Linked DNA regions of Homo sapiens. The protein of the gene in region 2 purifies or fractionates together with the protein of the main gene of each other region. This does not show direct contact. Each region holds a gene or a part of one and is shown on either strand. Other genes may lie near its edges.

Region 1 (3,647 bases), on a different chromosome or scaffold from region 2:
ATTTAGGTCATTTCCTTTTAGGTGTATCTCTTATATGCTGCATAGACAGGTTTTGCTTTGTGAGCCAATCTATAAATTTTATTCTTTTCATTGCTGACTTAAGCAATTGATGCCATTGATGATTTTGGTCTCAGCTCTGTCAAATTATTATCATTTTATTTATTTATTTTTTGAGACAGTCTCGCTCTGTTGTCCAAGTTGGAGTACAGTGGTGCCATCTTGGCTCACTGCAACCTCCACCTTCCGGGTTCAAGCAATTCTTGTGCCTCAGCCTCCCAAATAGCTGGGATTACAGGCGCCCGCCACCATGCCTGGCTAATTTTTGTATTTATTTATTTATTTATTTATTTTGAGACGGAGTCTCGCTCTGTCACCCAGGCTGGAGTGCAGTGGCGCAATCTTGGTTCACTGCAACCTCCGCCTCCTGGGTTCAAGCGATTCTCCTGCCTCAGCCTCCTGAGTAGCTGGGATTACAGGTGCCCACCACTGTGCCCGGCTAATTTTTGTATTTTTAGTAGAGACAGGGTTTCGCCATGTTGGCCAGGCTGGTCTCGAACTCCTTACCTCAGGTGATCTGCCCGCCTCGGCCTCCCAAAGTGCTGGGATTATAGGCATGAGCTACTGCTCCTGGCCTAATTTTTTTTTTTTTTTTTTTTTTGAGATGGAGTCTCACTCTGTTGCCAGGCTGGAGTGCAGTGGTACGATCTCGGCTCACTGCAACCTGTGCCTCCTGGATTTAAGCGATTCTTCTGCCTCAGCCTCCCGAGTAGCTGGGACTACAGGTGCGTGCCACCACACCCAGCTAATTTTTGTCTTTTTAGTAGAGATGGGGTTTCACCATGTTGGCCAGGATGGTCTCGATCTCTTGACCTTGTGATCTGCCTGCCTCGGCCTCCCAAAGTGCTGGAATTACAGGTATGAGCCGCTGTGCCTGACACCTGTCAAATTATTTTACTGTGTTTATTTACCATGTTTCTTTCACTGTGGGGTCTCTGTCCTTGCTGTTTTGTTTTTCTTTTAACTTCTTTTGTTATTTAGGAAGGTTTATATTAATATTTTAATTCTACATTGGATAATTCCTATATCAAAACTATTGTTGACAATCAGTTACAGATGGAACTTCGTCTACTCTTTCTCCCCTTCTCACTCCTGCTCTTTCTCCCTTTCTCACTCCAGCAGTTGACTAGTCTCATTGAAAAAACAAATTGGGGCCGGCCAGGCATGATGGCTCATGCCTGTAATCCCAGCACTTTAGGAGGCTGAGGCGGGTAAATCACCTGAGGTCAAGATTTCGAGACCAACCTGGCCAATATGGCAAAACCCCGTCTGTACTAAAAAAATACAAAAATTAGCTGAGCGTGGTATTGTGCGCCTGTAGTCCCAGCTACTTAGGAGGCTGAGGTGGGAGAATCGCTTGAACCCGGGAGGTGGAGGTTGCAGTGAGCCGAGATCGTGCCATTGTGCTCCAGCCTGGGTGACAGAGCCAGACTCCATCCCAAAAACAAACAAACAAATAAACTGGGAATTTAGTTTTACTGGTTGCTGTTTCTGCTGACTTGCTCAAGGAGTCGTGTTTCCTTTTAAGTTTTGTGGTTATTTTTGTGTCCTGTAGTAAGCTTTTTTTTTTCTTTTTCGAGGCGAAGTCTCACTTTGTTGCCAAAGGCTGGAGTGCAGTGGCGCGGTCTTGGCTTACTGCTACCTCCGCCTCCCAGGTTCAAGCAATTCTCCCACCTCAGCCTCCTGAGTAGTAGCTGGGACTACAAGAGCGCTGCCACCACGCCCGGCTAAATTTTTTTTTTTTTTTTTGAGATGGCGTCTTGCTCTGGCGCCCAGGCTGGAGTGCAATGGCGCGATCTTGGCTCACTGCAACCTCTGCCTCCCAAGTTCAAGCGATTCTCCTGCCTTAGCCTCCCGAGTAGCTGGGATTACAGGTGTGTGCCACCATGCCTGGCTAGTTTTTAAATTTTTTGTAGCTGGGACTACAGGTGCATGCCACCACGCCCGGCTAATTAAAAAATTTTTTTTGTGCAGGTGGGGTCTCACTATGTTTTCCAGACTGTAATAACTTTCCTATTGGAGTATAATACAGAAGTGACCAAATCATAAGTGTACTGTTTAAAGAATTATCTTATAGTTAGTCTGGGCAACATAGCAAAATGCTGTCCCTACAAAAATACAAAAATTAGGCCGGGCATGGTGGCTCATGCCTGTAATCCTAGCATTTCAGGAGGCCAAGGCGGGCAGATCATGAGGTCAGGAGATCGAGACCATCCTGGCTAGCACGGTGAAACCCCGGCTCTACTAAAAATACAAAAAATTAGCCGGGCATGGTGGCAGGCGCCTGTAGTCCCAGCTACTCGGGAGGCTGAGGCAGGAGAATGGCGTAAACCCGGGAGGCGGAGCTTGCAGTGAGCCGAGATTGCGCCACTGCACTCCAGCCTGGGCGACAGAGCAAGACTCCATCTCAAAAAAAAAAAAAAAAAAAAAATATATATATATATATATATATATATATGTAAATTAGTCTGGAGTGGTGGTTTGCATCTATGGCCCCAGCTACTCAGGAGGCTGAGGTGGGAGGATTGCTTGATCCCAGGGAGTTTGAGGCTGCAATGACCTATGATCACATCACTGTACTCCAGTCTGGGCAACAGAGCAAGATTTGTCTCTAAAAATTAAAAAAAAAAAAAATTATAGTTACTTGTGTGTTAGTTTTGGGTTTTTGACCAGCCATGAATATTCCCAAATATACTATTTTCCACTCATTATTTCACAATTGTCTACCAAGTTAAAATGAAGAACTTTGTCAGGTACTCTGCAAAGGAGGGATGGGCAGAGGGAATATTTCACAAACTTAGGCCAGGGGCCTAAAACATCTCTGGCCTAAGGAAGAGAAGCCTATAAGGATCTTTAATACTTTACCCTTTAACACTCTGGGTAGGTGCTGGTGGATGTGCCCTGTACCACAGACCGCCACTCCCTTCATGAGGAGGAGAACAACATCTTTAAGCGGTCAAGGAAGAAGGAGCGACAGATATTGCCTGTGCTGCAAGTGCAGCTTCTTGCGTGAGTGACAGATTTTTAAACTCAGGACTTTGTGCCAGAGTGCTCTGGGAGACTGGGGGACTGGAAGCTCTTACCAAGACCATAACCCACACAAGAATCTTATGGCTGGAGATCTGCCTAGAGGAGACAGAAATGGGATCATCTCTGGAACATAAAAACCCTATTTGAATTAGCTGGGTGTGGAGATGCACACCTGTAGTCCCAGCTACTCAGGGGGCTGAGGGAGGAGAATCACTTGAACCTAGGAGGTGGAGGCTGCAGTGAGCTGAGATCGTGCCACTGCACTCCAGCCTGGGTAACAGAGCAAGACTCTGTCTCAAAAAACAAAAACAAAAACAAAAAAGCAACCCTATCTAGTAGGATATATATACTAGAGTGGGCTGCACAGATTGACTCATGCTATTTCATCCTCAGTACCAGTGAGTAGCACATGTTTGAAAAATAGCTGCTAGAGTAAGGACTCATTCTATAGCCAGCATAGCAATTTGGTCCATAAACAAGAGCTCAGGGGGTCATTGTAAGGAGACTTCCTAGTGAAGAGCTCATGGAGTAAGGTTGGGTTGCTATCTGCCTTGAGAGTG
Region 2 (3,647 bases):
AGCACAGGCTCACGCAGGCCTCACCGCAGTAAGGGTCTGCACATGAGCGAGCAGCACTCTGGCCAGCGCGGACGCCTGATCCCATCGCTGCATGTGGTCCTTAATCATTCACACCATGCCGGGACGTCCACCTTACTCCCTGAATCAGAGTGGAGTTTTGTGTAGTTTAACATTTTCCTTACACAGGAAGGAAATCATTCTTTTTACAGGGACTTGATACGTAACTCACAGAGTATAGTCCTTCCAAGTCAGAGGCGCGCTTTTCATGAACTCCAGCATCTCAGCTGAGGCCACATCTGGAAGTGCACCCAGCCACCATCAAGGCAACTGTTCCACCCTAGGCCGTGCCCGCCCCCGGCCGCCCCACAGAGCCTTCTACAATTCTCCAGCCAAGTGGAAGGGACGACAGGAACTCTGGTCTAGTCTCCCAGAGCTGAAACGCCACAGCTCTAGGCATTTCAGATGACAAGTGGCAGAGTCTGCACCTCACCTTTATGTGTTCCCAGAACCTTATTGTCTTCTATGGAAATAAAGTGACCAGGTCGAGGCTGCAGATACTGGAAAACAAACATGTCATTACCGACGGAGATCTAGGCCCAGGGCAGACACGCAGCCCCATCTCTTTGTGTCAAAGAGCAGCACGCACCTGAAGAAGGAAATGTTCAAAATTCCTCTTCCCGATGAAACACATGCCCATGCTCTGAAATGAGAAGACGGCAGCCGTGAGAGGAGCAGAAGTGGCGGTGGCCCAAGCTGTACCCAGACGTCCTGAGCGGGCCCTGGGGCCTCCCGGCCTCACCCCACACTTTGCTTCCAGGGTAGGGGCCCGGCTGCCCACCGGCACCCTCGGCCGCCAGTCACAGCCGGCGCACACGATGCCAGAGCCTTAGAGAACGCCTCATTGTCTCGGCCCGCGGGGTCTGACCCTGCGCGGGAGACCCTCACACCAGCTGCCCCGGGGAAGAAAGCAGAACCCGGTCAGGTCCTTCAGGCCACTGTCCTGCGAGGAGTGGGGGAGAGACAGGGACCAGAGAAGGGGCAGGTAGCAGGAAAGCCAGGCCTGAAGCTAAGGCCTTAGGGGAGGGCTCCAGGGGAGTCAGAGGAGAGAGGCGCCTTCCTCAAGCACATCTGCCCTAGCTGGGGAGCCTGGGTGGCGTGCGCTCTCCACCGTGGCCCCATCAGGGGCTGCATCGTTTACTCTGGTTTGTGTCTCTCAAGACTGCCCTTCCATCCCTGCGGCTCCCACCACAGAGCGACACCGGAAACGGAAAACAAGAGGAGAGGAGGACGGGCGGTGGGCGTGCTCTTCAGGGAAGATGGCTCTGATGAAAGGTATGGCCGTTTCCATTACCAGGAAGAGACACGAAGGAGCAACAGCTCCCACCGCACTGGCCCCTGAAGAGGTGAGGCTCATCCCACAGCGCCCTCGCCCTCCATCCCCAAGGCCCTCCCACGGGCTTCATCCTAGTTCCGCCAACACTCCGGGTTCTCTCTTTTTGAGACGAGTTTCGCTGTGTTGCCCAGGCTGTCCTCAAACTCCTGGGTGCGCTCGATCCTCCTGAGGAGCTGGGGCCACAGGCAGGCACCCCCACAGCGGCTCCCTGGCTTCTCCTCGCCTCAAGGCCTTTGCACTGCCGTTCCCTCATCTGGACTTTCCCAGCCCTCTCTGGGACACCGGATCCTCTCCTCCTTCAGGTCTCAGGTTCCATGTGACTTCTTTTGAGGCCGTTTTTGGCATCTCCATTCCCTACTCTCAGACCCCACTGGTGCTTCCCACCCAGGGTCCTACACCTCCCTCCGTAGACATTTTCTAGGTTTACACTGATTGGCCTCCTGCCTGTGTCCCCCACTCGCGGGCGGGCTCCATGGAGGCGAAGATGGAACTGTGTGCGCGTCACCAATTCCTCGCGGCCCAGCAGCACAGCGCCCGAACAGATGGCACCGAACGAGTCTGTGCCGGGCAAGCGGGTGACAGGGCACATGAGTGTGCAGACGGCGGCACAGCACCTGCCCCTCCAGGGGTCTCGGGGCTGCATCACACTGCCTGGCACTCACCTGGCAGGCAGGCCATCCCAAGAGCACCCCACCAGCTGCTAAGGCTGTGGGGAAAGCTGCCTACCACATAGGGGCAGAGGAGAGGAAAAAAGCAAGGAGTCTCGTATAGGCTGCTCCCGATGTCAGCAGAGCCCTGTACCGTGCGCCTCAGCAAACTCCTCCATCTATTGCTCCAAGGCCCGCCTTTGATGTTAGGTCCTGGAGAAGGGGAAGTGGTGCGGGACCCACAGGTCCAGCTGCTCCGTGCCATGCAGTCGGGAAAGGGAAACAGGCACTAATCAAAGGCAACTGCTCACTCGTACCTCTTTCTTCTGAAGCACATGATGAAGTCTATTCTCAGCAGCGATTTTCTTTACAAACTCTTTCGTTAATCCCCCCAGAGGGAAGATGGTTCTCCTCAGGGCATCCTGGGAAACCTGGCTGAGAAAGAAGGTCTGGTCTTTAAAGCTGTCAGCTGCCTGGAGGAGTTTTACCGCTGCCAAGAATAAAGAACAAAAGACGATGCAGGAATAAAAATAATGATACTTCACTTTCAACAATGTCCTTCTGTTCACTTAGACAGACTACCCCTAGCCTGTCAGAGGCAGACATCAACACTCAATAGCAACTACTAGGGAAAAGACCACCACGGGTTAATGTAAGAAAAATTCGCACCTCCAAAAAAAAAAACAAGGATTTTACATGACAAAGAAATTATTCCAGCTCATACTTCAGATTATAATATTTTCAAAGATGAAACATCACATGAAAAAATGTTCTCAAGTGATAAGAAAAAAAAAAAAAAACACCTAAAATAAATTCAGCCAAATCTTGGAAAATGGAGTAAGCTAGTTGCTGGCAGAAAATTCCACTGATATAGTGTCAGCTGTGCCTTCTTCCAACAACCACAGGATGTGTTCGTGCCACAGTGGTTTCAAGGACTCTACACTTTCCAGGTTCACTGCCCGGCGGCCAGCACATGCCTCCAGCAGCGCCCTACCTGTGAAGGCATTAGCTTTCTTGGTAAAAACGTTTTTTTGTTGAGAGTCTCAGCTGACATCTGTTAGGTGACCCTGCAGTTCCTCCGACATTCCCTATGTGATTGTAAAGAACCATTTCTGGCTTTAAGGCAACGGAGCAGAGGTGTGAGTAAACCTGGCTTAGAACCGTCCAGTTCTCCACTCTCGAGTTCAATGATCAATGGCAAAAAACTAAGACGAACGTCAGTTTTCTGGCTTCTTTCAATCTTTCTCATAAACTTCTCCTTTCGAGTTACACTCAGAGCACGCCACATGCCGTGACGGTCAGACAGCACACCTACCCTTCCTGGCTTGGCAGAGCCACGTGTACAGTACACACTCTGCGTAGCTAGTGTTTTCCATCTGCCGATTCCCACGTTAGCCGTGAGAGGGAGAATTCTCCCCACGTTACAGAGGGGAGACTGGAGCCGGCCCAGTTCATCACATATGACTCGCCCAAAGTGATGCAGGTGGAGGCGGTGGGGCTGGAGGCTGCCCAGCCTCCCGAGTCCCCCTCCCTTACTTGGCAGGTACAAACAGCAGAACTGAGTGACAAGTGAGACCAAGTTCAGCCGACCAGTCGCCACGGAAGCA
Region 3 (3,647 bases), on a different chromosome or scaffold from region 2:
TATAAAGTCATCTTCCCATGCATGCCCCATGTTGGAAACTAAAAGCACAGAAAGGCCTTCCTAGCATGTTTCCTTCCTTCTACCAGGTGGCCAAGTTTATTGGGTCTCCACCAGGCTACGTTGGCCATGAGGAGGGTGGCCAGCTGACCAAGAAGTTGAAGCAGTGCCCCAATGCTGTGGTGCTCTTTGATGAAGTAGACAAGGCCCATCCAGATGTGCTCACCATCATGCTGCAGCTGTTTGATGAGGTGAGTCACCTTGGGCCAGGATGGAGCGGGGGGACACCTGGAGATAAGGGGGACTGTGAACAGCAGAAAGCAAGGGCCCAGAGGCTAGCTGGTCATTCCTCGGCTTCCTGCTCCCGCATGTGTACATTCATTCATCCAGTAGGTGCAACTTAGCCCCTCTGCACTAGGGCCTGGGTGGGGCACTCAAGCGAAGACCAGCCCTGCCTAAGAGTTGAAATTGTGTGGCTGCTCAGCCCACCTTCTAGAGAGACATGGTATGGCAGAGGTGCCATGAGAGCGAGACATGAATTTTTAGTTCCAGCTCTGCTCCTGACTGGCTTTGTGGCCTTGGCAAGTCACTGCCCATCTCTAGGCATCAGAGATCTCATGTGACAAACGAGGAGGCTGAATCAGAGAAGCCCCAAAAATCCTTCTGCCTCAGACAGCTCTTGTTCCTCCCTGTGTGCCAAACATTGTCTCCTGCAGTTCTTTAAAATGCTAATATTGTTGCTGCTAATGGTGAGATGCTGATACTCTGATTCATGGAGCCTTTCTCTTCTGAGAATCTGAGGGTTCTCACAGACTGTCCAGTTCCCCTGCTCGTAGGGGTAAGTTCTAAATGGAGAGAAGAGCTTACTTCTATCCAGTACCTTCTGTGTACTAGACCTGTACTAAAGACGTTACAGCCATTATCACTAATCCTCACAAGGTAGGTAGAAAAATTCCTAACAGGCAAGGGAGAAATTAGCTCATTTTTTACAGATGAAGAAACTGAGGTTCAGAGAGGTTATAAAAGACATGCCTAAGGCCACAGCTGCTGTGTAAAGAGCCAAGATTGGGCTGCAGATATGTCTGATCCCAGAGCCCCAATTCTCCCCCCATACCACTGTTTACCTTGAACCAGGCGAGGGATTGCTTACGATCACGGAAGAAGATGACTTCCACCTTTTCAGGGGCCCTGCTCCATCAAGAGAGCGTGAGGAGCCAAGGACTGAACCGGGGATGAGGCCTCTCTTCTCTCATGCAGGGGCTATATTAGCTAGCACCTGGCCATGAGTCCAGCTCACCTTTCTACCTAGTCTCCTGCAGCCCTAGGAAAACAAAAAGGTGGTTTGCTTCCCATGTCATAGGAGGCCACAGGGAGGGGACTCCTCCAGACCGAACAGCACATCAGGTACCAAGCCAGGAAGATCCAGATCCAGATCTCCTACCAGCTGCTCACTGCCTTCCCCACCTGGCCCAGCCTCCTTGCCCCTGCCCGTTCCGTTGTATCTTCCTAGCCCTTCAGCTGCTCCCTGCCCCTGAACCTCTGCTGAGGAAGAAGAGACCAGTCCTTCAGAGGTCACATACTCAGTTACTCACGTGTACACTGAGGCCTCTACTCCATTCCAGCCTCTTGATGGGATTCAAGTGCACAGCTATGACCAGACCCGAATGTGCCCTCTTGGAGCTCTCTGCCTGGTAGACAGGTGGAAAGGAGACATGGTAGTAGCTGGCATTTTGCATTTTGTGTGCCATTCGCTGTCTTCAGAGGCTTATGTGTATCAATTTAACCCTTTCAACAACCCTCCAAAGCTAGCTATTATTACGGCCTCCATTGAACAGATGTGGAAACTGAAGCAAAGTAAGATTAAGTCATTTACCTGTGGTCATGCAGCTGGGGAGAGAGAATCAAGGATTCAAACCCAGGCAGCCCAGTTCTAGATCCTGCAGCTTGAATGACTGCCACGCAGCTAGGGCCAAAAGAGCGAGGTCCGTCTCAGTGAAGCACGCAAGGGACGGGACCATGCCGCTGAGGGAGGGTGAGCATCGCGGCCTGTTTGATCTCTGGTCTCCCTGGAGAGGCACCTCTGATGGCATTCTTGGCCCAAAAAACAGAAGGCAACTGCTGACTGAAGTACAATCAGCCATACATGGAAGCCCTGTCTCCCCCTCCTCCGTCACTTCACTCCACTGACTGCCTTTTAGGGGTTGATAGGAATTCCTTCCTGCAGCTGTTGTCGCCCCTTCCCCCAGCCCCAGCCTACTATAGTTTCTGATGCTCTTGGTTCCATTGACCAAAGCTGCCATCCAGGTTTACTCGATTTAGGCTCTTTGAGGATGGGCCCTTGTCATGTTCACTTGAACCATTCCCAGAGCCCACAAAGTCAGGGGAAATGTTGTATTGACTAATTTAATTCAACAGTAGTTTTAATTCAACAGTAGTTAGCAAACCTTCAAAGGGTTAGTAAGTGCTAGGTGAACAGAGTGGCGGGGCTGGCAGTAGAAACCTAATGTATAAAAGTACAGGGCATGAAACAGGCTGGCATGCTCAGGGAACTGCAGCTGGTCAGTACTGCTCGATTGCAGAGGGAAAACAAGGACAGAGTGCTAGAGACAAGGTAGGTAAGGTAAACAGGGCCCAGTTAAAATGCCAGGCACAGAAGTTTGCATTTCTCTGGTAGAGAGTAAGGAGCCTTTTAAAGACTTTAAGCAAGAAAGAAACAGTCAAATTTTCACTTTACAAAGATGCCGTGGGCAGCTGTGTAAAGAATGGATGAGAAGGGAGAGGGTCATTAACAAGGAGACTGCTGGGGAGCCCAAGCTACAGCTGGGGAGGCCATGGGCTGGAGAAACTACTAGAAGGTTGACTGAGGAGAGGAGGAGGAGCCAAGGGTGGCCAGTTGGCTGCTGCCAGTTGGCCATCAGCTAAGGCGGCGAACACAGTGGGAAGCCGCAGATTGAAGAGGAAGGTGAGGCACTGAGGTGTGGAAATGTTGAAGGTGAGATACCTGAGGGACATCCAGATGGAGATGGCCAAGGGGCCGTTCATCAGTTTTATGGGTCAGGAGTTTAGGAAAGGTCTGACTGAAAATAGCAGTTCAGGAATCCTTCAGCCCAGAGAGGTTAACGGAAGCCACAGGAATGGATGAGGTCTGTAACCCAGGGAGTGTATAATGTGCAGAGAAAAGAGGGCTATACACAGAGCCTTGGGACCTATCAGGGAAGTCAAGACAGACTCGCCAGAGAAGTAGGAGGCAAAACCAGGCCAGGCATGATGGGTCACACCTGTAATCCCAGCACTTTGGAAGGCCGAGGTGGGCAGATCACTTGAATTCAGGGGTTCGAGACCAGCTTGGGCAACATGGCAAAACCTTGTCTCTACAAAAAATACAAAAATCAGCTGGGCATAGTGACATGTGCCTGTAGTCCTCACTACTCAGGAGGCTGAGGTGGGAGGATGGCTTGAGCCTCAGAGGCTGAGGTTGCAGTGAGCAGAGATTGCACCACTGCGCTCCAACCTGGGCAACAGAGCCAGACCCTGTCTCAAAAACAAAAAAGAGCCAACCAAAAGAATGTGGCTCATTCATTTATTCATGAGGCGCTGTGTGGGGTAGAGGGGACACTGACAAAACAGATGCAGCCCTGGCCTTGGCGTGA

The links.
Region 1: the proteins of TRMU (region 2) and NSUN4 purify together in Homo sapiens (affinity purification with mass spectrometry; one large-scale study listed by BioGRID and IntAct). This does not show direct contact.
Region 3: the proteins of TRMU (region 2) and CLPB purify together in Homo sapiens (affinity purification with mass spectrometry; one large-scale study listed by BioGRID and IntAct). This does not show direct contact.

What each region holds. Positions count from the first base shown.
Region 1 is NC_000001.11:46,357,763-46,361,409, forward strand, and holds part of NSUN4 (5-cytosine rRNA methyltransferase NSUN4), read left to right. Parts: intron 1-2,941; coding exon 2,942-3,066; intron 3,067-3,647. UniProt on the Homo sapiens protein: Mitochondrial RNA cytosine C(5)-methyltransferase that methylates cytosine to 5-methylcytosine (m5C) in various RNAs, such as rRNAs, mRNAs and some long non-coding RNAs (lncRNAs).
Region 2 is NC_000022.11:46,349,174-46,352,820, reverse strand, and holds part of TRMU (mitochondrial tRNA-specific 2-thiouridylase 1), read right to left. Parts: intron 2,531-3,647; coding exon 2,358-2,530; intron 701-2,357; coding exon 647-700; intron 558-646; coding exon 491-557; intron 1-490. UniProt on the Homo sapiens protein: Catalyzes the 2-thiolation of uridine at the wobble position (U34) of mitochondrial tRNA(Lys), tRNA(Glu) and tRNA(Gln).
Region 3 is NC_000011.10:72,298,404-72,302,050, reverse strand, and holds part of CLPB (mitochondrial disaggregase), read left to right. Parts: exon of another isoform or gene 1-86; coding exon 87-248; exon of another isoform or gene 249-1,318; intron 1,319-1,589; exon of another isoform or gene 1,590-1,685; intron 1,686-1,870; exon of another isoform or gene 1,871-2,088; intron 2,089-3,647. UniProt on the Homo sapiens protein: Functions as a regulatory ATPase and participates in secretion/protein trafficking process. Has ATP-dependent protein disaggregase activity and is required to maintain the solubility of key mitochondrial proteins.